Linked DNA regions of Homo sapiens. The protein of the gene in region 4 purifies or fractionates together with the protein of the main gene of each other region. This does not show direct contact. Each region holds a gene or a part of one and is shown on either strand. Other genes may lie near its edges.

The links.
Region 1: the proteins of RPSA2 (region 4) and RSBN1 purify together in Homo sapiens (affinity purification with mass spectrometry; one large-scale study listed by BioGRID and IntAct). This does not show direct contact.
Region 2: the proteins of RPSA2 (region 4) and GAR1 purify together in Homo sapiens (affinity purification with mass spectrometry; one large-scale study listed by BioGRID and IntAct). This does not show direct contact.
Region 3: the proteins of RPSA2 (region 4) and MPHOSPH10 purify together in Homo sapiens (affinity purification with mass spectrometry; one large-scale study listed by BioGRID and IntAct). This does not show direct contact.
Region 5: the proteins of RPSA2 (region 4) and PRRC2C purify together in Homo sapiens (affinity purification with mass spectrometry; one large-scale study listed by BioGRID and IntAct). This does not show direct contact.
Region 6: the proteins of RPSA2 (region 4) and ZBTB11 purify together in Homo sapiens (affinity purification with mass spectrometry; one large-scale study listed by BioGRID and IntAct). This does not show direct contact.
Region 7: the proteins of RPSA2 (region 4) and DHX36 purify together in Homo sapiens (affinity purification with mass spectrometry; one large-scale study listed by BioGRID and IntAct). This does not show direct contact.

Annotation. Positions count from the first base shown.
Region 1 is NC_000001.11:113,805,977-113,809,476, reverse strand, and holds part of RSBN1 (lysine-specific demethylase 9), read left to right. Parts: intron 1-3,500. UniProt on the Homo sapiens protein: Histone demethylase that specifically demethylates dimethylated 'Lys-20' of histone H4 (H4K20me2), thereby modulating chromosome architecture.
Region 2 is NC_000004.12:109,822,000-109,825,237, reverse strand, and holds the end of GAR1 (H/ACA ribonucleoprotein complex subunit 1), read right to left. Parts: intron 2,892-3,238; coding exon 2,750-2,891; intron 1,274-2,749; coding exon 1,205-1,273; intron 821-1,204; coding exon 807-820; 3' UTR 501-806; downstream 1-500. UniProt on the Homo sapiens protein: Required for ribosome biogenesis and telomere maintenance. Part of the H/ACA small nucleolar ribonucleoprotein (H/ACA snoRNP) complex, which catalyzes pseudouridylation of rRNA.
Region 3 is NC_000002.12:71,147,634-71,150,601, reverse strand, and holds the end of MPHOSPH10 (U3 small nucleolar ribonucleoprotein protein MPP10), read right to left. Parts: intron 2,604-2,968; coding exon 2,496-2,603; intron 1,380-2,495; coding exon 1,149-1,379; intron 737-1,148; coding exon 587-736; 3' UTR 501-586; downstream 1-500. UniProt on the Homo sapiens protein: Component of the 60-80S U3 small nucleolar ribonucleoprotein (U3 snoRNP). Required for the early cleavages during pre-18S ribosomal RNA processing. Part of the small subunit (SSU) processome, first precursor of the small eukaryotic ribosomal subunit.
Region 4 is NC_000019.10:23,766,004-23,769,503, reverse strand, and holds part of RPSA2 (small ribosomal subunit protein uS2B), read right to left. Parts: intron 1-3,500. UniProt on the Homo sapiens protein: Required for the assembly and/or stability of the 40S ribosomal subunit. Required for the processing of the 20S rRNA-precursor to mature 18S rRNA in a late step of the maturation of 40S ribosomal subunits. Also functions as a cell surface receptor for laminin.
Region 5 is NC_000001.11:171,586,530-171,590,029, reverse strand, and holds part of PRRC2C (protein PRRC2C), read right to left. Parts: intron 3,028-3,500; coding exon 2,809-3,027; intron 2,383-2,808; coding exon 2,279-2,382; intron 1,652-2,278; coding exon 1,525-1,651; intron 662-1,524; coding exon 425-661; intron 1-424. UniProt on the Homo sapiens protein: Required for efficient formation of stress granules.
Region 6 is NC_000003.12:101,656,633-101,660,132, forward strand, and holds part of ZBTB11 (zinc finger and BTB domain-containing protein 11), read right to left. Parts: intron 3,397-3,500; coding exon 3,151-3,396; intron 1-3,150. UniProt on the Homo sapiens protein: May be involved in transcriptional regulation.
Region 7 is NC_000003.12:154,314,488-154,317,987, forward strand, and holds part of DHX36 (ATP-dependent DNA/RNA helicase DHX36), read right to left. Parts: intron 1,677-3,500; coding exon 1,552-1,676; intron 794-1,551; coding exon 559-793; intron 1-558.

The DNA.
Region 1 (3,500 bases), on a different chromosome or scaffold from region 4:
ACATAGTTTGACTGATATCTTTTTTGTCCTCTGAACATCTTTATTGTTACAGTGGTATGCAGGAGGCATGCCTCTGGTATTAATCTGAGTTTAAATCATGGCTCTAACACTTACTGTGTGAGCCTGAACAAATTGCTTTACCCTCTCTCAACTGCACTTTTCCTGTCTATAAAATGGGGTTGTGGTATTTCATTTATAAGGAACTTGTGTGGATTAAATAGGGCATTGTGTGAAAGTACTTACAGCAGTGCCTGGCTCATTGTAGGCACTTACTTAAAACCGGCCTTTATTATTTTATTATGCATGGTCCCTAAAACAACTCTAAGATTAATAAGGAGAGTGGGCAGATTCTTGTTACTTACAAAGCTATGTCCTTCCTTCGCTTATCCTCAGATTTTTGGAAACTATTTTAACTGTTTTTTTTTTTTAGATAATTAATGATTCACAGGAAATTGCAAACATAGTCAAGTCCTTACCTTTTACCAGTTTCCCTCAGTGGCTACATCTTACATAACTATTGTATAATATCAACACCAGGAAATTGACATTGGTACAATGTATATGTAGTTATATGCTATTTTATCATATGTAGATTAGTGTAACCACCACTACAATCAAGATACAGAACTGTTCCACCACCACAAACCCTTTACAGCCTTAGGCACTCCCTCTGTCTCTCTACTGTCCCTGTCCTCTGGCAGCCACTAACCTGTTTTGTCATTTTGAGACTATTATATAAGTTGAATCATACAGTATGTGATCTTTGGAGATTGCCCTTTTTCACTCAGTGTGATGTCCCTGAGATCCATCCCTCTTTTTCATTGCCGAATAGTGTTCCATGGTATGGATGTACCATGGTTCACCTATTGAATCATTCCCGTATAAGAAAGGACATTTTGATTATTTCTAGTTTTTGGCTATTATAGATAGAGCTTCTATGAAAATTGGTGTTCAGGTTTTTGTGTGCATGTAACTTTTCATTTCTTTGGTCGTATGGTAAATACAATTAGCCCTCTGTATCCATGGGTTCCACATCAATGGATTCAGCCAACCTGGGATTGAAAATATTTTCAAAAAAACATTGTCTGTACTGGACTTGTGCAGACTTTTTTTTTCTTGTCACTGTTCCCTAAACAATACAGTATAACAATTATTTATATAGCATGTACATTGTATTAGGTATAAATAATCTGGAGATGATTTAAAATATAGGGGAGGATGTGCATAGGTTATAAGCAATTATTATGCCATTTTATATGAAGGACTTGATCATCTTGGATTTTGTTGCCCTGGGAGGCTCTGGAACCAATCCTCCATGGATACCAAGGATGACTATATATATTTATTTTGTTTGTTTGTTTTTTAAGATACTGCCAAAGTATTTTCTGGAGTGTCGGTACCATTTTACATTCCTGTCAGCGGTGTAAGAGAAATCCATTTTCTCCACATTCTTGCCAGTATCTGGTATTGTCACTATTTTTATTTTAGCAATTTTAATAGACGTGTGGTGATACATCATCATGATCTTAATTTGCATTTCCCAAATGGCTAGTGATAATACACATCTTTTCATATCATCATTTGCTGTCTATATATCCTGGTCAGTAAAATGTCTCTTTATACCTTTTGCCTATTTTCTAATTGAATTTTGTGTGTGTGTGTGTGTGTGTGTGTGTATACATATACATATATATATATATATAATTTTTTTTTTTGAGACAGAATTTCACTCTTGTTGCCCAGGCTGGAGAGCAATGGTGCAATCTCGGCTCACTGCAACCTCTGCCTCCCGGGTTCAAGCGATTCTCCTGCCTCAGCCTCCCGAATCGCTGGGATTACAGGTGCCTGCCACCACACCCAGCTACTTTTTTATATTTTTAGTAGAGACGGGGTTTCACTGTGTTGGCCAGGCTGTTCTCGAACTCCTGACCTCAGGTGATCCACCCGCCTCAGCCTCCCAAAGTGCTGGGATTTCAGGCGTGAGCCACTGCGCCCGGCCCTTGAATTGTATATTTTTTATTACTGGGTTTTGATAATTTTTTGTAGATCACAGGTGCAGCTTCTTTGTATGGTTTGCACATATTTTCTCCCAATCTGTTGCTTGTCTTTCCATCCTTTTTGTTTGTTTGCTTGTTTTTATTTTGGTTGTTTTTTTTTTTTTTTGAGATGGATTCTCACTTTGTCACCCAGGCTGGAGTGTAGTAGCACGATCCTGGCTCACTGCAACCTCCACCTCTTGGGTTCAGGCGATTCTCCTATGTCAGCCTCCCGAGTAGCTGTGATTACAGGCATCTGCCACCATGCCCGGCTAATTTTTGTGTTTTTCAGTAGAGACGGGGTTTCGCCATATTGGTCAGGCTGGTCTTGAACTCCTGACCTCAGGTGATCCGCCCGCCTTGGTCTCCCAAAGTGCTGGGATTACAGGCATGAGCCACCACGCCCAGCCTGTTTGTTTTTGTTTTTTTGGGGAGGGTCTCACTCAGTTACCCAGGCTGCAGCACAGTGATGTGATCATGGCTCACTCTAGCCTCAACCTCTGGGGCTCAAGTGATCCTCCCACCTCAACCTCCTGAGTAGCTGAGACCACACGTGTGCACCACCACACCTGGCTAATGTTTTTTTTTTTTTTTTTTTTTTTGATAGAGGCAGGGTCTCTCTGTGTTGTCCAGGCTGGTCTCAAACTCCTGGGCTTAAGTGATCCTCCCGCCTTGGCCTACCAAAGTGTTGGGATTACAGACAGGAGCCACTGTGCCTGGTCCTTTCTACCTTCTCAGTGGGATACTTCACAGAGCAAAAATTTTAAATTTTGTTGATATCCAATTTACTAAGTTTTTTTTTTTCTTTAATGGATCATGTTTTTGGCATCATATCTAACATACCAAGTCCTAGATCCCAAAGATTTTCTCCTTTGTTTTCTTCTAAAAGTTTTATAATTTTAACTTTTGTATTTTAATCTGTCATCCATTTGAGTTAATTTTGTACAGGTGTGAGGTTTAGGTCGCCATTTTTTTTCTTCTTGCCTAAGGATATCCAGTTGCTCTAGCACCTTTTGTTGAAAAGATTAATCTTCCATTGAATTGCTTTTGCACTTTTTTCAAAAATCAGTACAACCTGTAATGTAACAATGATTTTTTTTTTTTTTTTGAGACAGAGTCTCGCTCTGTGCCAGGCTGGAGTGCAGTGGTGTGATCTCAGCTCAGTGCAACCTCCACCTCCTGGGTTCATGGGAATCTTATGCCTCAGCCTCCTGAGTAGCTGGGATTACAGGCGCCCACCACCACACCCAGCTAATTTTGTATTTTTAGTAGAGATGGGGTTTCACCATGTTGGCCAGACTGGTCTCAAACTCCTGACCTCAGGTGATGTGCCTCCCACAAGTGCTGGGATTACAGGCATGAGCCACTGTGCCTGGCCTAACAATGGTTTTTACAATTTAAAATAGTTGGAACGACCTTGTAGCGCATGGAAATCATACGAAATTTAAACTGTGTCCAGAAATA
Region 2 (3,238 bases), on a different chromosome or scaffold from region 4:
GTAGTATACTACACGAATATTTACGTGTAGTAAATAACACCTTAAACTTTTAGAGTCCCTTTAAAAAAGTAAAAATAAAATAACATTCAGTAAAACTTCTAATATTCCATTTATGTTGGATGAGAAAAATTAACTTTAGAAATTTCTTGCTATAGTTTTCACTTCAACAGAGCTACTGCATCTTTAATACATTACTAATATGGAAAATTTTTAAATCAATTATTAATTGCAATTAGAGAAACAGCTTAACTGATTTATGTATTAAAATACAAAAGGCAAATACAAAGCTATCTTCTCATACATAAAAGGCCAGGGTTTTGAAAGGCAGTGTCAACTTGTAAATTATCTTAAAGTACTGCTACAGTAGTCTATTTTTTAAAAGATCAGTAATATAAATAAACAAATCCTTTTTTCGATCTGCAATTCACTGGGTTTAAGCTTTAGTTATTCCTTTCTACTTTAAAAAATGGGTTTCATTTAATAAACACACTCTAAATAACTTAAGGGAATAAAACACTTTATTTTAAAAATTCAAATATGCTTCAAATGAAAACTCCTATCCATTTATTGAGCACCCACAGAGTGCCAGGCACTGTACAAAACATTAGAAAGACTTGTTCATGCTCTTTTAGAGCAAAATTCACTATTCCGTTGCACTTTGCATGATGCTGACATTTTAGATCCATTGTCATAAAATGACCAAGATCTTCAAGACTTGTTCAAGAAACAAGTTTCCAATCCATAGTAGAAACAGATCATGCAGGTTAATGCAGAAGTCAACTGGTGATGTCTGTCAACTGTTTCACTTAATGTCCTCTCCCTGATTAAGAGAAAATTAAAGTATTAAGGGCACAGAAAATGGATTTTTAATAGTATTATAACCTAAATCTCAAGTTTAAAATCAGCATTAGTTCCAATAATGTTTAGCAAACATACTTTACCAAATTTAACTGTCATTCATATTACACCTTTATTTTTCAAATTAATAATAAAGCAAAACAAATTAGAATTAGGTGAAAAAATTGAAAAGAAAAGGCAAAAAAAAAGTGATATAAAATGAAACCACAAATTAGGCTAAGCAAAGAACACCATGGTGTTCTATATACTTGCTGGCAGAGAAAATTAAACTTAAGTAAAAACAGAAAATGCCAGATAATATCAATTTTAAACATTAAGCAATTTAAAGACTTTTTAAAATACTCACCTCTGAAACCACCACCTCTTCCTCCTCTGAAGCCCCCACCTCCACCTCCTCTTCCACCTCTAAAACCACCTAAAAAACATTTATTAAATAATAACGCAAAGTATTTAAATAACAATAGAATATAATAATCATTAAGTTATTAACTGTATAACCTCTTATATTGATAAGCCTAAAAAGATCAATACAATAACTATAATTATAATGAATAAATATAGATTCACATATTTTATCAGGGAAAAAATTTTAGAAGATAAAAATGGAGAAACTGTAGTAGTTTACCAACTGGGCAACAGGCTAAAACCCCAGATTATTCCATTTCAATAAATTAGAAAAACTTGTTAAAGTATGATTCAGTCTTGTTAAATGTATGACTATTGCCTTAGCTCTTGCTTATGATAAATACTTTTTTGATTCAACTAAGGATAGTTTGATGGAACTGTGGCTTTTTATCCTAACAACAAAGGGTGGCAGATATGGGTGCTTTTGCTCTGGGGGTAAGATAATAAATATGATAGTTAAGATTAACTGAGCTACATAAGTAAGATTTTAAAAAAATAAGACAGCTGTGAATTTTTTGAAATGTTAAATGATACTCAACATAACATGAGAATAGGGGAATCTCTGTTCATCAAATTCTCAAGAAGGTACCCCTGAGAATTTTCCTACCTATATGGACACAAAAAAATACCTTTATGGAGTGAAATGGTGATTAAATTGAGAAACGCCAAAAGTGAGGCGTTCCTTCTCTTTTTCTGATCCAGTAACAAAAGCTGTCCAAGCCCAACTTTCAGCTCCTCTCCCTTTCCACTTTGGCTCTGCCCATCACCCCATCACTCGCCCTTCTCCTACTCACAGGGCATGGCAGCCCCACTCCCCAGAGCCCTGCTCATCACCTAGCTGTCCATAATGATGAATGTGCCCAAACCTTAGGGGAAAGGCATACATCAAAACAGGCATACATCAAAATACCCCAAAACCTTGGGGGAAAGGCATACATCACAACAGTGAGATCACAGTAATGAATTTATTAGTAATAGTTCTTGACATGACATCAGAAGATATGCATTTTAATTCTTGGGTCTGCCAATTGTTTGATTGGGGCAAATTAATTTCTGTAAGTCTCCGTTTCCTCATTCATAAAATAAGGATATCATCTATCTCAAAAGGTTTCGCTGAGTATTAAAAATATATACATGGAAATTAAAAGAATGTATGACCAGCTTTCAGCATGCAGTCTACACTCAATAATATTAACTAAGGAATTAAAATTAAGATAATCTTACGGTTTATTAAAATGTCCAAGAAAACATGAATAACCCAAAGAAATGAAGTCCCTCAAAAGTATACTTTAGTAGATTTTCTTCTTTTTAAGTAAGTTGTTGAAATGAAGCATTATTATTATGGACAATCTGCCAATATTGGAAAGCAGCTTTAATAAAAAGAACCATAAGGGAGGTTTGCTATGTACAAAGCTAAATTGTATTGTATGAATTAGCTGTGAAAGTCACAGTTAATTTCATTAGAAATTTTCCCCAAGTAACTTACCGCCTCTGCCACCACCTCTGCCACCTCCTCCTCTTCCTCCTCCTCGGCCTCCCCTGCCACCACCTCTTGGAGGTCCTTTCTCACCTGGAGGTCGAGGTAAAAACCTCTGCAGTGGCAGCAGCTTATATGGGTCTATATAAAACTGGAAACATAATAGAAGCAATTAGTATACAACTTGGGGGACAGTATAATATAATCATTAAGAAGCTACATGATAGAGTCAAAACTGCCTGGGTTCAAACCCCAATCCTACCACTTTCTACTACATATCCCTGGGTAGAGACTTAATTTCTTACTAACTTAGGTTTCTTTTTTTTTTTTTTTTTTTTTTTTACCTTAAGTTCTGGGATACATGTGCAGAACGTGCAGGTTTGTTACATAGGTACACATGTGCCATGGTGGTTTGCTGCACCTATCAACCCATCATCTAGGTTTTAAGCCCCGTATGCATCGGGTATTTGCCCTATTGCTCTCCCTCCCCTTCCCCCC
Region 3 (2,968 bases), on a different chromosome or scaffold from region 4:
GCTTCTGTTGCTTCTAGATTCACTTCTCCATCATACCTGTCCTCTGCAGCTGATTGTGGATAGTGCTCTACAGCCTACATTAAACCTTTGTTCAGATGACATGAGATCATTTCCCAAAGGGGAAGGAAGGCACAGGCATGAAAATGCTACTGTTTTATGAAATGACAGGGCAATGGGAGAAGGAAATCAAGAGCCCAAAGAGTGAGGACCTCTGCTGTAGACAGCTGCTTGTGAGGGGGTTGGCTGGCTCTGTCCTCTTCACAGCCTGCAGGCCAGTGCTTGCTCACCAGCCCATGTGGACAAGCTGGCCTGGCCTTCACACAGGCCTGGGCCACGGCAAGAGCACAGCAGGATCAGCTCAGGCAGTGCCTGAACAGGAAGGGCCTGGGGAGGAGCCAGGTCCTGCTTCATACCAGTGAAAACCGGAAGGGCTTTGCAAATGGTTAGGGGTTTGTCTTTTCACACTATGGAACCCTCAAATATCTGTCATCGATGCAAAGGAAGGTTCTCAAGAATTTTATTATAAAACAGAACAATGACACAATATAAGCTTACACATTAATATTTACATTATATTCAAAATATATTACAGCTTTAATTTATGAACAGAAATATCCTGTCTTTTCTTCTTTTTCTTTTCTGTTTTCTTTGCATCATTGATTTGCATTTTTACTTGATCTTGTAATTTAGAAAAGAATGCTTGAGAGGACTTTAAGGCCTTGTCTTTACCTTCATCCTGCAATTAAAAACACCACATGCTTATGCTGTAAAATGTACTTATAAGTGAAAAAAGCCAAAAATAGTACATCACCATTACAACAATGTATGCAACCATAAATATGAAAAAGGACTAGAATTACAGAAAACTGAATCAGTTAGCATAGAGGTATTCTGCACTGCTACAATGTTCTTATAATCTAAGAGAGAAAGGAGTGGAAGACAAGCTGCTGCCAGGACCCAGGTTATTGTGAGGACCCTACATGAAAAATTCTAGAACATTAAAGGTTGCGATTCCAGCCAGTCAGCATCATGCATCTCTATCCCGCAGGTGGGCTGTCAGCTGGCTCAGACATTCCAGTCACCCAGCACTTGCTATCCACTTCCCCCACAAAGGTCCCCTTGAGCAGTTTTCTTTCCCTTGTCCTTACCTTTATGAAGGAAGCTTTGCCAGTTTTGGTCAGCTGTTTTAACTTCTCCGAAGCTACTGTTTTGCTGTATTTCCCTGCTTGATCTACACTGCTCTTTTCAAGCAGTTTTCTCCGCTTCTCCTTCTCTTTTATTTTCATACGCTTTTGATATTTCTTTTTCCTTCGCTCTCGTTTCTTGTCTGTAGCTGTTTTTTCAGCAGCTGTTTTTATATCTCCAGCTTTATTTTTCTCCTATTAAAAAAATAACCACCAACATATTCATTCATCAAGTTTAACAACTAGGAAACTGGAATGGAAGAAACTGCAGGGTAGCCAGCAAGCAGGCTGTGCATCTGTGGCCAAATGCACAAAGATGCAGAGCAATCCCCACCTGCATTCCAATGAGCGTTGGTAACTCAGCTCTTTAAAACCTGAAATGCATTCTTTGACAGGCACAGACTCTTATAGTGACGGTTCAGTTCCCAAACTAATTCACAAGAAGGCAACATGGAGAGTTGGGTTCTCAACCTAACAGCACAAGAGGAGCCAGCCCTCCACAGCATTTAGATTCCAATGGGCTTCAGGGACATGCCAGAGGCAGCCTCAGCTCTGAGCTGCTAATGACAGCAACTGGACTGAGGCCAGAGGGCAGAGACCAAGGAACAGAGGAAGGGAAGGGAAACATCTCTCTAGTGAGGATCAATTCTATCTCTTTTCTCCTCAGCTGCCAGCCTATCCTGCCAGGGCTGTCACCTGCACTGAGGTGGCAGAGGCTCAGACAGAAGGGGTGAGTGTAGGTGTAGCAAATCAAGTGAGGAGGGAAAAAGAAGGCCCTGCTGCTAAGCCAGCCAGGAAGATGAGCACCTGGCAGAAACCATTATTACTGTGTAAGGCATAAGCTTCAATGTTCACATGGCAGGGATTGCTGCATTTGATATATCTAGCCTCTTCTGATAACCAAATGCTCGATTCTAGATTCAGATTCCATTACTAATTAGCATTACATGAATAAAATAAGGGGGAAATGCTGACACTAAACTATTGCTAGTATATATGCAATGCAAGCCATTTGTTTTCAACTTAACATCACTGCTAGTATTCAGATTGGATTATAATAAGATATTGATACTAGCTATTTTAAAACTGCTCTTACAGTAACTCTCAAACCTGTACCTCATAATAAAGCCAGAATATAGGAGACTGGTATTTGAATATTATAACATTACTAGTTTGCTTATACTTAGAAACTGCTGAGATACATTGGAATAAGAACTACAAGTGCAAGGCAAATGACGTCAAATAAATGGAGTCTGGCTATGATCAACTAACTTGTAACAGACATTTAAGGTTTCAACATTGGCTTCTTACCTTGATCTCCTCTGGGGCCAGGAGAGCTGCATCACTAACACTCACTGGGGCTACTTCCTCCATGGTTATGGCTGGCAGATTTGACACAACTTTAATCTCTGGTACAGGCTAGAAAAGAGATAATACATTCAATGGGAAGCCAGAAGGGACTCTAACACAAAATGTGTGAACTGTGAACCTATTAACTTAAAGTATAATATATAAAATACTTTATGGAGATTATCTTTTTTTCACTTGCTTGAAAGTCAGCAAACCTAATGGAGACTATTTAAAATGTTAGATATGGTGACAGCCAAAGTCCTAAGTGGACTGGCATGACGGCAGTGCTGAGGGGCAGCACTGCTTCAGGATCCCAGAGACCTGGGTATTTTAGGGTTTTCTGTCTCAAAACCATTCCAACAGCATGTATTTCTTTTTCTTTTTTTTTTTCTTTTGAGACAGAGCCTTGCTCTGTTGCCCAGGCTGGAGTGCAC
Region 4 (3,500 bases):
ACTGTGGCGGTGCATGCCTATAATCCCAGCTACTCATGAGGCTGAGGCAGTTGAATCACTTGAACCCAGGAGGTGGAGGTTGCAGTGAGCCAAGATTTTGCCACTGCACTCCAGCCTGGGTGACAGAGCCAGACTCCATCTCGAAAAAAGAGAGTCACATCACCTAATTAAGTGTCTCAGAGTTAAGACACAGTGCCCCTCATGGGTAGGGCCCAGGAAGAAGTGTGAAGTCACATATAACCTTTGAGCTAGGCCCAGCAATGTGTCAAAATCACTCCAGTGGGTAGGGCCCAGGCCTAAGAAAAGAGTCATATCACGTAGGTGCTTGGCCAAGCAATACGTCACAATCCCCACTGTGGACAGGTCCCAGGGAGAAGAGAGTCACACAGTCTCAGCGATGGACCCAGATATATGTTACAGTGACTTCTGGGAGTCAGCAGAAGAATCAAATCACCTGTATGCTAAACTCAGGAATAAGTCATTCTCTCTTCTGTGGGCAAGGCCCGGCTGAAGAGGAGAGTTACATCACCTTGGTGCTGGGCCCAAATATATGTCACAATCTCTTTTTGGGCAACGTTCAGGTAAGAGAGAAGAGTCACATAAAATAGTTAAAGGGGGCCAAGCACAATGGCTCACACCTGTAATCCCATCACTTTAAGAGGTTGAGGCGGGCGGATTGGCTGAGGTCAGGAGTTTGAGAACAGCCTGGCCAACATGGTGAAACCCTGTCTCTACTAAATATAGAAAAATTAGATGGGCCTGGTGGTGTGTACCTGTAATCCCAGCTACTAGGGAGGCTGAGGCAGGAGAATCGCTTGAACCTGCGAGGTGAAGGTTGTAGTGAGCCAAGATTGTACCACTGCACTCCAGCCTGGGCAAAAGAACGAGACTCTTTCTCAAAAAAAAAGAAAAAAAAAAAAAAAAAGCTTAAATATCTGTCCTTTTCAGACAATAAACATGTCATTTAAATATTTCCATGAGAGATAATTTAATAAACAACCATATGTGAACATTTCTAGAAAGTGTCAAGTTCCATGTCATAAAATTTTGCATTAAACTTGGATATCTAGACAACAGAATACAGAACAGAGATATCCACCATTACAAATTCTAGACTTTGAAAAAAAGAGGAGCTGATGGTTTGAGAAATATATACAATGCACCAATTAATCTATCATATTTGCTTGTGGAAATGTATTCACTTTGTATAGCCATAATGGAAAAAAGATTTTTCCTATTTCTCTTCTCTGGTAGCATTCTCAAAGCAAACCCCTGGGGTTCTATTTAAAATTACACAACCAGAAAAAAACATAAATTTAACAAATAAAACATATCACTAGATTTTTCTGAAATATACCTTTCATAGTCGTTGACTTTTTAAACATCTTTTAAGCTCTTCTGATGAAATGTAATTTACAGTTATTAAAAAACTGAAATTGGGCCGGGCGTGGTGGCTCACGCTTGTAATCCCAGCACTTTGGGAAGCTGAGGTGGGCAGATCATAAGGTCAGGAGTTCCAGACCAGCCTGGCCAACACAGTGAAACCCCGTCTCTACTAAAAATAGAAAAATTAGCTGGGCATGCTGGTGGGCGCCTGTAATCCCAGCTACTCAGGAGGCTGAGGCAGGAGAACAGCTTGAACCCGGGAGGCGGAGGTTGTGGTGAGCCAAGATTGTACCACTGCACTCCAGCCTGGGCGACAGAGCTAGACTCTGTCTCAAAAAAAAAAAAAAAAAAAAAAACTGAAATTGAAATAAGTGAAAAAATCTTTCCAAGGTGACAAACTCAGGAAGTGGCAGTGCTGATTGGGACACAAACATGTCTGACTCCACTGTCAAGTCAGACCATAATATCACTCAAAATATTCTGTCATCCCCATCCTGCCTATTAAATTACTCAGTGACCACCTTCCCAGGAGACACTTTGTACCCCACTGTGAGTCTCAGGTACATTTTGCTTGCAGGTTCTTGCATTGCCTTACTGGGATGGGATCTTCTTGTCCTTTGGAAAAAATTTTATTTCAAGAATCCAGAGAACAAAAATCATTTCTGCCTTTTCTCATCAATGCGAACATTTGATTGTCTCATCACCAATGTGTCTACTAAAAATAAAAATCAGGTTGAGAGGCCAGGCGTGGTGGCTCACACCTGTAATCCCTGCACTTTGAGAGCCCCAGGCAGATGGACCACCTGAGGTCATGAGTTAGAGACCAGCCTGGCAAACATAATGAAACCCCGTATGTACTAAAAATACAAAAAATTAGGCCGGGCACCGTGGTTCACGCCTGTAACCCCAAATCTTTGGGAGGGCGAGGCAGGTGGATAATCTGAGGTCAGGAGTTCGAGAACAGCCTGGGCAACATGGCGAAACCCCGTCTCTACTAAAAATACAATTAGCTGGGCGTGGTGGCACGCACCTGTCTACTCAGGAGGCTGAGGCAGGAGAATGGTTTGAAACCGGGAGGCAGAGGTTTCAGTGAGCCGAGATCATGCCACCGCACTCCAGCCTGGATGACAGAGCAAGACTCTGTCTCCCAAAAACACAAAACAAACAAGCAAACAAACAAAAATTCAAAAAATTAGCCGGCCTTGATAGCAGGCGCTTGTAATCCCAGCTACTCAGGACGCTGAGGTAGGAGAATTGGTTGAACCCAGGAGGTGAAGATTGTAGTGAGCCAAGATAACGACACTGCACTCCAGCCTGGGTAACAAGAGCGAAACTCCGTCTCAAAAAAAAAAAAAAAAACATTTGGCCCGGCACGGTGGCTCAGGCCTGTAATCCCAGCACTTTGGGAGGCCGAGGCGGGCGGATCACGAGGTCAGGAGATCAAGACCATCCTGGCTAACACGGTGAAACCCTGTCTCTACTAAATATACAAAAAATTAGCCGGGCAAGGTGGTGGGCGCCTGTAGTCCCAGCTACTCGGAAGGCTGAGGCAGGAGAATGGCGTGAACCCGGGAGGCGGAGCTTGCAGTGAGCCGGGGAGATCGCGCCACTGCCCTCCAGCCTGGGTGACAGAGCAAGACTCTGTCTCAAAAAAAAAAAAAAAAAATTAGCTTGAGAAAAAACTTCTTAACTGTTTACACACTTGTTCATTTTTATCTCATTGGGGGAAGACCTCTCAATATATTTCAGAGTCAAGAGGTAAAATTTTTTTAAAATAATTTTTTAAAGGGTACACTCTGAGGCTGGGCACAGTGGCTCATGCCTATAATCCCAGCTACTCGGGAGGCTGCGGTGGGAGAATCACTCGAACCTGGGAAGTGGAGGTTGTAGTGAGCCGAGACTGCACCACTGCACTCTAGCCTGGGAAAGAGAGTGAGACTCCATCTCAAAAAAAAAAAAAAAAAAAAAAAAAAAGGAAATGAAATATCCGCACCAGCAACATTAATACAAAAAGTTCTATTAAACAATGACACCCACTCAAATGTCACCTCTTCTATAAAGCCCTCCTTGATATTCCCACTGCTATGTTAGTGGCAGAATTGATCACTATTACC
Region 5 (3,500 bases), on a different chromosome or scaffold from region 4:
AGGGGAAAGGGGGGAAGAAAATATATATTAAAAAAAAAAAAAAAAAGAAAGAAAATGGGGAAGTCTATAATAATTGATATTACTTCTTTGCTATTCCAAAAAAAAGTGTGCATCTAAACTCAGATCTCCCTCAAATATTTATTTGATAACAATTCATTTGGCCACAGTTTAAGACATTAATTCATTTCCTGACTACAGTTGCAAAAAAAAAGAAAAAGAAAAAGAAACAAAAAGAAAAAAAAGATGAAAGGAATGGGAATGGGGGAAAAAAAAGAAAAAAAAGGGGGAATGAATAAAAGTAGTTAGCTTGGTTAAGTCTGCTAAGACAATGAATGCCTGGATATACAGTTATGGGTCCAGAGGCATTTTAAGACATGGTTCAGAGACAGATTCTTGATCTGTTGGCTGTTAACACTGTACTAACCTTCATGTCTTGTTCAGCCTTCAACGCAGCCTGGGCCTGATTACCTCTGACTCCAGATAGTGATCCACAAGGACCCCTGGCTACATGTGGCAAACGAGCATGGCTCATGAGGCCTGTGGTCAGCGGAGGAGGCATCTGACTGGCCAGTGCCATTGGTGGCCTCTGAACAGGCGCTGGGAAGGTGTTAGTATGTGGGGCTCTTACCAATGGAGGGACCAGGTTAGGCTGGGAGAGAATCTGAGTGAAAAAAACAAAACATACAACATTGAACTGTTAAAAAAAAAAAAAAAAAAAAAACTGCCAACTAGACCAGGTTGGCTCATCCCAGAGTAAATCTGTGCCCATCCTACCAGTGAAAGGAAGTGTACAGATTGTGCCATTCCATTAACAAGGACAAGGAATAAACAGGCCATGCTTGGAGAGTTTAACAGAAAAACTAGGCAAAGCATGCTATGGCACTTCAGTTGGTCCTAGCATCTCAGTTGTAAATTCTGAAGGGGGGATAGAAAGACTTTTAATTAGGCTATCTTTTCAAAAGGTAGTTGCAGAAAAGGCACACACCTGTAACAAATGTAATCTGAAGATAAATAAAATCAATACTAATTCAACAAATGTGAATTTCTCAGGAACCAGTTCTAGTTTGTGAGAGTTCTTAGTCCTTTTATACGATCAGCAAGGGGAAGAGAAGCCAACATTTTTTACATATATTAAAACATCTTTTTGGAAATTTTATCTCAATTGCACATAAATATCTTAACAACAACAAAAAACAACTTTAAACCTAGAAAACTTCAAGCACTGGGACCCTTCGCTGAAAAGTCAACTCCTTAAAAAAAGTTAAAAGGAAAAGGACTCATTATCAGAGCTGTGTGGGGAATCTTTTAACTATTTCTCTTGTCTGCTTTAGAACTAAACAATTACCATGTCTGGCTATAAATCGCAGACTATCTTTATAAAATAAATTTATTGTTAAATTCAGAAACAATTTTTTATTAAAAACTGTACTTCTTAACTGGTTAACATAAGGCAAGATAATAATTTATCAGATTAGCAACTATTTTTAAGTAAATAATACTCATTTCTTAATTATGTCTGCCCACCTGGGGTGCAAACTGTGTAGGAAATGGTTGTGTCATTCTCACAGTGGCAGGGGCTGACTGGAACTGCTTCTGGTAGACAATGCTGTTCATTTTGCTGGACTGGCTGTTCGGACTTGTAGAAGTAGCCCTTGGAAAGAAGCCATTACTAGTCAGTATAGTAATACCAAGTAAATAATGCTGTTAGATTTTTGCAAACACCGTTCTTGGTATTTTCATCATACTTGGTAGTTGGTAAAAATTTACTATGATGATTACCAAAACATTCTGGTAGAAGAGAGACATTGGAGGAGCAGAGGTAAGAAAGGATACCAGTTACCAGTTAGATTGGCTGGTTCGAGACCAGCTTGGACAATATTTTTTTAAAAATTAGCCAGGTGTGGTGGCACGTGTATGTAGTCCCAGCTACTCAGGAGGCTGAGGCAGGAGGCTTGCTTGAGCCCAGGTGTTTGAGGTTGCAGTGAGCTATAATCATGGCACTGCACTCTAGTCTGGGTAACAGTGTGAGACTCTGTCTCAAAAAAAATAAAAGAAAAAAAGGTTTGCTCTGTAACAAAAGAATTTACTTAAAATATAGTACAATAAACACATTTTAAATAATTTAAAAGCTTAACATTTTAGACAAAACTATCAAAAAGAATGTCTTAATAATTCCTTTTCTGCTTGGAAAAGGGATTATGTCACACAGGACTGATAAGTATTTAACAAATAGTGACCAAATTGGAATTTCATAAGCAAATTTAAATGCCCATTTTACCGGAAGGGACTAGATGTTGGTGTGGTGCTTCTACCAGCGATTGGAGGTGTGCCTGGTTTTATATCAATGCCACTTCCAAAGGCTTTTAGTTCCATTTCAGACATCTGAGGAGAAGCATAAAATAAACTTAACATTTCTTTAATTCCACAAGCTAAGTGCTGTGTTTACATGTCCTATACGTGAAGACGTAATCTAGGAAAGGGCAAAGAACCTTAGTACAAAACTCCTATAGTTAGGCTTCAAGTATTATGGAATTACCTGACCAAACAGACTTATAATTAAATAAGCCCAAGAGACACTATAAATCCAATTCTTCCAATAAATTTGTGAATTCTTTGTTATTAGGTAAAAACTAGATGGGGCCAAACACATTAAAAGTAAATAGATAAAATGTAAATATACTGGGGTTTGAGATTTTTGCAGGGTGGTAAAAACTGACGCATTTTAGTTTTTTAGATAACACAGATGCATATATCTGAACACACTACCTTAAATTCTCAAATAACCTGTGCAAATGTCTCTTTACTTACTTTTCCTGTGGTTGCAATCATGCTATGCTGTGTTCCAGCAGGAATTAATCCTCTGAAAGGCTGGCTTACTTGTGCAGGACGACTCAGACTCTGAGCCTGTGCTTGGGGAGTGGTATGCTGTAATGGGGGCTGAAGAGTCTGAGGCAAAGCAATTAGAGGTTGCCCTGTAGATCCAAAATTAGGCAAGGAAAGCTGCGATGCTGGTAAAGGTACTGTAACCTAGAAAATAAGTAAAGAGAAACTGAAGCAATTTGTTTCTGTTTACTACAGACATATCCATACAACTATACACAACTCTTCAAATACTTTTGAGTAAGATTTCAAACAGAACACATCGGCCAGGTGCAGTGGCTCATGCCTGTAATCCCAGCACTTTGGAAGGCCAAGGCGGGCAGATCACGAGGTCAAGAGATCGAGACCATCCTGGCCAACATGGTGAAACCCTGTCTCTACTAAAAAAAAAAAATACGAAAATTAGCTGCATGTGGTGGCATGTGCCTGTAGTCTCAGCTACTTGGGAGGCTGAGGCATGAGAATCACTTGGACCCAGGAGGGGGAGGTTGCAGTGAGCCGAGATCCTGCCACTGCACTCCAGCCTGGCGACAGAGCGAGACTCTGTCTCAAAATAAAATAAAATAAAATAAAATAAAATAAAATAAAATAAAATAAAATAAAATACATAGAACACATCC
Region 6 (3,500 bases), on a different chromosome or scaffold from region 4:
GAACTAATTATTTTTTTTTCCTTTTCCACAATCCACTGGGAGAAATTTTTGTTAAACACAAAAATTTTTGTTAAAAATGACGTGACAATGCCAAATTGCTATGACAGTTTCTACATGCTTACTCTCTATTTCTGTACTTATTGTCCACAGACCACACATATTGAGTAGTGCCACATGGGAAGACCAGAGGCCCAACTAATACTTGGTATTTAAATTTATGGCCGGGTGTGGTGGTTCATGCTGGTAATCCCAGCACTTTGGGAGGCTGAGACGGGCGGATCATTTGAGGTCAGGAGTTCGTGACCAGCCTGGTCAACATGGTGAAACCCTGTTTCTACTTAAAAAAAAAAATACAAAAATTAGCCAGGTGTGGTGACAGGCATCTGTAATCCCAACTACTCGGGAGGCTGAGGTAGGAGAATCACTTGAACCCAGGAGGCAGAGGTTGCAGTGAGCCAAGATCGTGCTACTGCACTCCAGCCTCAGTGACAGAGCAAGAATCAGTCTCAAAAAAAAAAAAAAAACAAAAAACCCATAAATTTACAAATAAAGTGATCCTTAGGAAGGACTTGGCTTCAAAATAACTGGCGGAGCTGGGCAAAGTGACTCATGCCTGTAACCCCAACACTTTGGGAGGCTGAGGTGGTTGGATTGTCTGAGCTCAGGAGTTCGAGACTGGCCTGGGCAACATGGTGAAACCCTGTCTCTACTAAAATACAAAAAATTAGCCAGGCGTGGTGGCGTGTGCCTGTAGTTCCAGCTACTCGGGAGGCTGAGGCAGGAGAATTGCTTGAACCTGGGAGGTGGAGGTTGCAGTGAACTGAGATGGCGCCACTGCACTCCAGCCTGCGGAAACAGAGTGAGACCCTGCCTCCAAAAAAAAAAAACAAAAACCTGGCAGGGTGGGGGTGGAGGTGGGAGTAGGGTAGTAAATAACAGTATACATAAAACACATGTACCACGAGCTGGTAACTACTGAAGTTGAGTGAAGGGTACATGAGAGTTCAACCCATTCTCTTCTAAAATAATAAAAAGGAACAAAAAAGAGAAATATAAAAAACCTCACTGGAGGCCAGGCACAGTGGCTTATGCCTATAATCCCAGCACTTTGGGAGGCCCAGGTGGGAGAACAGCTTGAGACCAGGAGTTCAAGACCAGTCTGGGCAATATAGCAAGATCTATAAAAAGGCAGGGTCTCTATAAAAACTTAAAAAAAAAAAATTAGGTGGGTGTGGTGGCATACACCTGAAGTCCTAGCTACTCGGGTAGCTGATGCAGGAGGATTGCTTGAAACCAGGAGTTCGAGTTTACTGAGTTAAGATAATGCCACTGTATTCCGGCCTGGGTAATAAGAAAGACCCTGTCTTTAAAAAATCTGATATATGAAAAAGATACTTGCACATGCATGTTTACAACAGCACAATTCAGTTGCAAAAATATGAAACCAGCCCAAATGCCCATAAATCAATGAGCAGATAAAGAAAATGTGGTATAAATATACCATGGAATACCACTCAGTCATAAAAATGAACAAAATAATGGCATTTGCAGCAACCTGGATGGAACCGGAGACCACTACCTCTTTTAAAAATTAATTTTTTTTTTTTTTTTGAGACGGAGTCTCACTCTGTCGCCCAGGCTAGAGTGCAGTGGTGCGGTCTCGGCTCACTGCAACCTCTGCCTCCCGGGTTCAAGCAATTCTCCTGCCTCAGCCTCCCAAGTAGCTGGGATTACAGGTGTGTGCCACCATGCCTGGCTAATTTTTTGTATTTTTAGTAGAGATGGCCAGGATTGTTAGCCAGGATGGTCTCGATCTCCTGACCTTGTGATCCGCCTGCCTCGGCCTCCCAAAGTGCTGGGATTACAGGTGTGAGCCACACTGTACCCGGCCAATTAATTAATTTTTTTGAGATGGAATTTTGCTCTTGTTGTCCAGGCTGGAATGCAGTGGTGCCACCTCGGCTCACGGCAACCACCACCTCCCAGGTTCAAATGACCGGAGACCACTACTCTAAATGAAGTAACTTAGGAATGGAAAACCAAACATCGTATGTTCTCACTCATAATTGGGAGCTGAGCTATGAATGATACAACGGACTTTGGGGACTTGTGGGAAAGGGTGAGTTGGGGGTGAGGCATAAAAGACTACACCCTGGGTATAGTGTATACTGCTTAAGTAATGGGTACACCAAAATTTGGAAAACACTACTAAAAAACTTACCCATGTAAACAAACACCACCTGTTCCCCAAAAACTATTAAAATACAGAAAGAAAAAAAATCTCATTGGTTCCAAAACTGTTTTTTAATAAAAATACTAAGTCAGGCCTGGCATAGTGGCTCACGCCTATAATTCCAGTACTTTGGGAGCCTGACGTAGGAAGACTACTTGAGCCCAGGAGTTTGAGGCCAGCCTGGGCAACATAGTTAGGCCCCATCTCCACAAAATTTAAAAAAATTAGCCAGGCGTGGTGGTGCACATCTGTAGTCCCAGCTACTTGGGAGGCTAAGGTGGGAGGATGGTTTAATCCTCTGGGAGATGGAGGCTGCAGTGAGCTGTGATCATGCTACTACATTCCAGCCTGAGAGATAGAACAAGACCTTGTCTCAAAACAGACAAAAAAACCCAAACTGAGTCATACTCATATATAAGGCTACAGGTGCTACTAGAAATTTTTCACTGTTTCAAATAGCCCAAAGCTGGCTAATCACAGGATTCACTACCCTTGAGTCTTATTTTGGCATTTAGGTACTCTCAATCCTTAGCTCTAGAGAAGAACACAGCTTAGGCAGGACTTTTACGGACCACAGAGATTTGTTTAAGCCATGGGTTCCTTTCTAGTCCTGGTTGGTCCAGTTGAAGGTTAAGGAATGACTGGGATGATAAACTGGTTATTTTTCACCCTATACATCCTCTGGACCCTAGTAAGTTTTCACAAACATCTTAAATAGATTCAAATTACAACTTCAGAGAGCAAATTAAAAAACACCATAGGGAATCACCTTTGATCTAGGCAATAAAGAAGTCATAAATTTACCTGACATTTTACAAATGAGAGTGACTTGAGAATACATATCCCACCAGTCTCTTTGGCACACATAGTTAAGTTCTAATGTTCTTTAAATAGCAAAATAAACGTTATAGCTTTACCTGGCATGCATGTGGCTTTACACCTGTGTGCTTTAACATATGTATTCGGAGAGAATATAATTTAGGTAATGTTCTTCCACATATGGAACATATAAATTCCCGCTTGGTTCTGCCCTTCTCAGATGATGTTCCCGATGCTTCATTAGACGTGGAATTGGACGAGGATGAAGAGGGTGCATCTTTTCTGGTATGACGAATAAGATGTGCTCGCAAAGAGGCACTGTACTGAAACTGTTTTTTACACAACTAAAAGAAAAATAAAATTCTCTCTAAATGTATTTCCATTACAAAATGTTAACTGAAACTCAACTCATATTTGGACTTTGTTTTTGTTACAATTATATAAATCA
Region 7 (3,500 bases), on a different chromosome or scaffold from region 4:
TACATCTCTAGAACACCCACAAATCACACAATTTTATGTTTTAACTGAAAGGGACCTTAAAATATCTTGCCTAGCATAGAAAGAAAATATCAGAATTCAGGAGATCTCAGGTGTTGTGATAGTCCTGTATTTAAAATGTTAGTGAACAAAGCACATCACATAATTTTTGAAATATTTAATTTTATCATCTATAAAAAGAAGATGTATTAAGTAATCTGGAACAAGCTTTACAATTTTAACTGCCTTTACTGCACATGGCACCTCACTAAACTGGCCTAGAAAAGCTGAAGAGTAAGTTTTTTTTTCATTGGCACTAGCATTTCTCAAACATTTCTTCTCACCACATAAGCTTCTGTGGATGAGATAGGATACTGTAGGTTATGTGTAACTTCCATTCCCACTGCTTTTCTCTACCATTCGAAAAGAAATTAATTCCCACAGGGATGTCTTGTTGAGGATCTCACTGATCTATGCCATGCAGCTACCTCTAACCATACATACATTTTTATAAAGTGTAAGAAAAAAATGACAAAATATTTTTTGACATCTTTCTACTACCTGCATTTCAATATACCGAAGGTCATTTTTTTTCTTTTGTAAATCTTCCAATAATTTTTGGTCTAAAGTTCCATCTGGTTCATTTTCTTGCAAGAGATACTCAGAATCTCGGTCAATATATGATCTGTTCCTGATTCTAAACATTTTTTTTTCTTGATTTATCAACTTCTTTTCCTGGATGTCAAGTTTGTTCTCTGAGCATGGTGTGTTCTTAGTAGAAACTTCAGTACCGTATCTGTTTTGACAAAATAAGAAAGGAAGAAAGGTCAGATGAGCCACTCAAACACTGGAACAAAACAAAACAAAACAATACGCTGTTGAAATATTTCAAAGTCATCCAAATCCAAAGCTTTTCTTTTCTCTTAGTACAGTAATTATGAAAATATACTTAGATTCTTATAATAAATTCAAATTTTTCTTCCCTTTAAATAGATATTGCCAGATTAAGTTATTCCTTGTGATAGTTAAAAATAAAAATCCACAGAATAGTCATTCCTTCACTGCGGTTACTTACAGTGTTTCTCTTTTTCTGGATTTCTCGAACTTGTTTTATGTCACAACATCTTTTTTTCTTGCCACCCTTTCTGAGCTACAAATAGGATGCTACAATACACAGTCTTTGAAATACTTGTACTAATTTTTCCTCTAAATGATACAGTTCTTGTAATCTTTCTAAAACGGTAGCAATTTCACTTCTTGCAGATCTCCCAGACAGAATAATTTCATAAATACAAAGAGGACAGGTAGGGAGAACAATAAATAACAACTTAATACATCTCATATCCAGATACACTATTATTCATACCATTTAGCTTTCCTATGGAAACATGCCATCTAAATTTTTAAAAGTCATTTTCTAAATCTGTTTAATCTACATAAGGAAAAAAAGTACGTAAAGGTTAAAATTCACTTATCGAAGAAAATAAAGATGTTATTTTTATTATTAAAGTGTTACTCTTTGCCTATTCTTTAAAAAAATATTTCTTGTCGTACCCATGATCCTCAGGAGCAAACCAGGATATCTGTGCTTCTGACTCTTTATCATTCTTCGCTTGAACAGAATTCAGTAACTGTACAATTTGTTCTTCTCGTCGTTCATCCATGTGTACTACAGCTCTCTAGTTTGTGCAAAGAAAAAAGCATCCTTGTCAACATAAGAAAGCATATGCAAAAATTATTTGATACTGAAGAAAATAAAGGCTAAGTAATATATGTTCAACAAATACATATAAAAGAAAGTTATCCACAGGTGTCCTCTAGCCCAATACCCCCCTTCCTAGACCTAATTAATTGTTAAAATTTTCGTACATATCCTTCTAGACCTTTTCCAACAAGCATTTATAAAATTAGCCCTAATATGATTGGCAAAGAAAGCTCATTTATGTCTCTTCCTACAACTCTGGTTCTCTTACCCCAAACCCTCACATACTAATTATTATGAATTTCTCCTTATCTTAAAATTTCAAAGTTATTAAAACTCAAATGGTTTACGAAAAAAGTTGAAAACTGGAAATAGTTTGGTTGTAATGAACATTTGAAAGTTCTTACACTAAACAGAAGAATAAATTGGTAAGTAAGGCTGAGCTCAGAAGGAGTAAATAAAATTCATCAGTGCTTATAAGGTGATCCAATGTGGCAAATGACGCAGTTGCTTCAAAGAATGAGAATAAAACACAACAGACTGGACAAATATAAAGGTCCTTGGTGAACTATGAAACTTTGCAGAAACTTTACGCATCTAAGAAATGTCCAAGGTGAAAAAAAAAAAAAGAGAATGAATGCCAAAACCCAATTCTTTGGAGACTTTTATATTTAGATATAGTAAGTTGAAAAGTTGAAAAACAGATTCTTCAAAATTTATGGGACTACAAACCTTAGGTTCTAACGTGCATATAAATCCACAGGCAAAAGGAAACACACGCGGAGTGGTGAAAATTAGAGTGTGTTAGGTTAAAGAACCAAAGGAGGAGGAAGGTAAAAGTATAAATGGAAAGAAAACAGTCAAAAATCGAAAGAAAGAAACCACAGGACTTAATGACTATTTGGTGGAAGTTGGGGAGAGACAAAAAGGAAGAAAGAATCAAAGAACTGTTTTCAAATTCAAGGGTGGATCCTGAGAGAGCAGCAGTAAGATGAATCATTAAAAGGAAGCTGCTCTGTGTTACTGTACATTTTTGTGTACATGTGGTGGTGATGGAGGTCACAATAGGATGCTAAGTTTGGATTTTAGGCAATTAAGAACAAAGATGAAATTTCCCGACTTGTAATAATGACTAGGTAGATGAATATATGGAAATTGATCTCTGAGAGGTTTTGTTTTTAGAGTTATGATAGAAATTTTGGAGTGTTCTGCAAAGTTGAAATCACAGAGACACAGGAATTCTCTTAATTTACAAATAATACCACCTCCAAAGATGAGGACAGACGGATGACCAAGTCTGGCATTCACGGGGCCAAGGCAAGAAAATAAGTCAGAGGAGTAATCAAGAGAACAAACAAAAGACTAGGAGCACACAGTGAGAAAACCACTCCTATGAAGTGAAGAAAGGTGTTAAAAAAGGACTCAGAAGTATAAAATGGACGTAAGTAAGGCAGAGAACTGAAAAAATTACTACTGTATCCAACAACTAGGCAGTTGGGAATGATCTTCAAGGTATTTTTGGTTTTTGAGGTTTGGTTTTGATTTTTGGGGAAAAAAGAGGGAAGCAGGAGCTAGGGTAAGGAGACTGATGAAAGCAGACAGCAATGTGTAAAATACTGTAAAATCTAGAGCAATAGATTTCAATTGTTTATTTTTTATAGCAATCCACAGTAAAACTAATGACCCAGTACACACATATACAAGTAATTTCACAAAATACTTCCCTTACTCTGTACAGTGCAACTCTTATCTTCTCTTCACTGTATTCTATCCCAATTAAACAAACACCAAAATAGCTGGT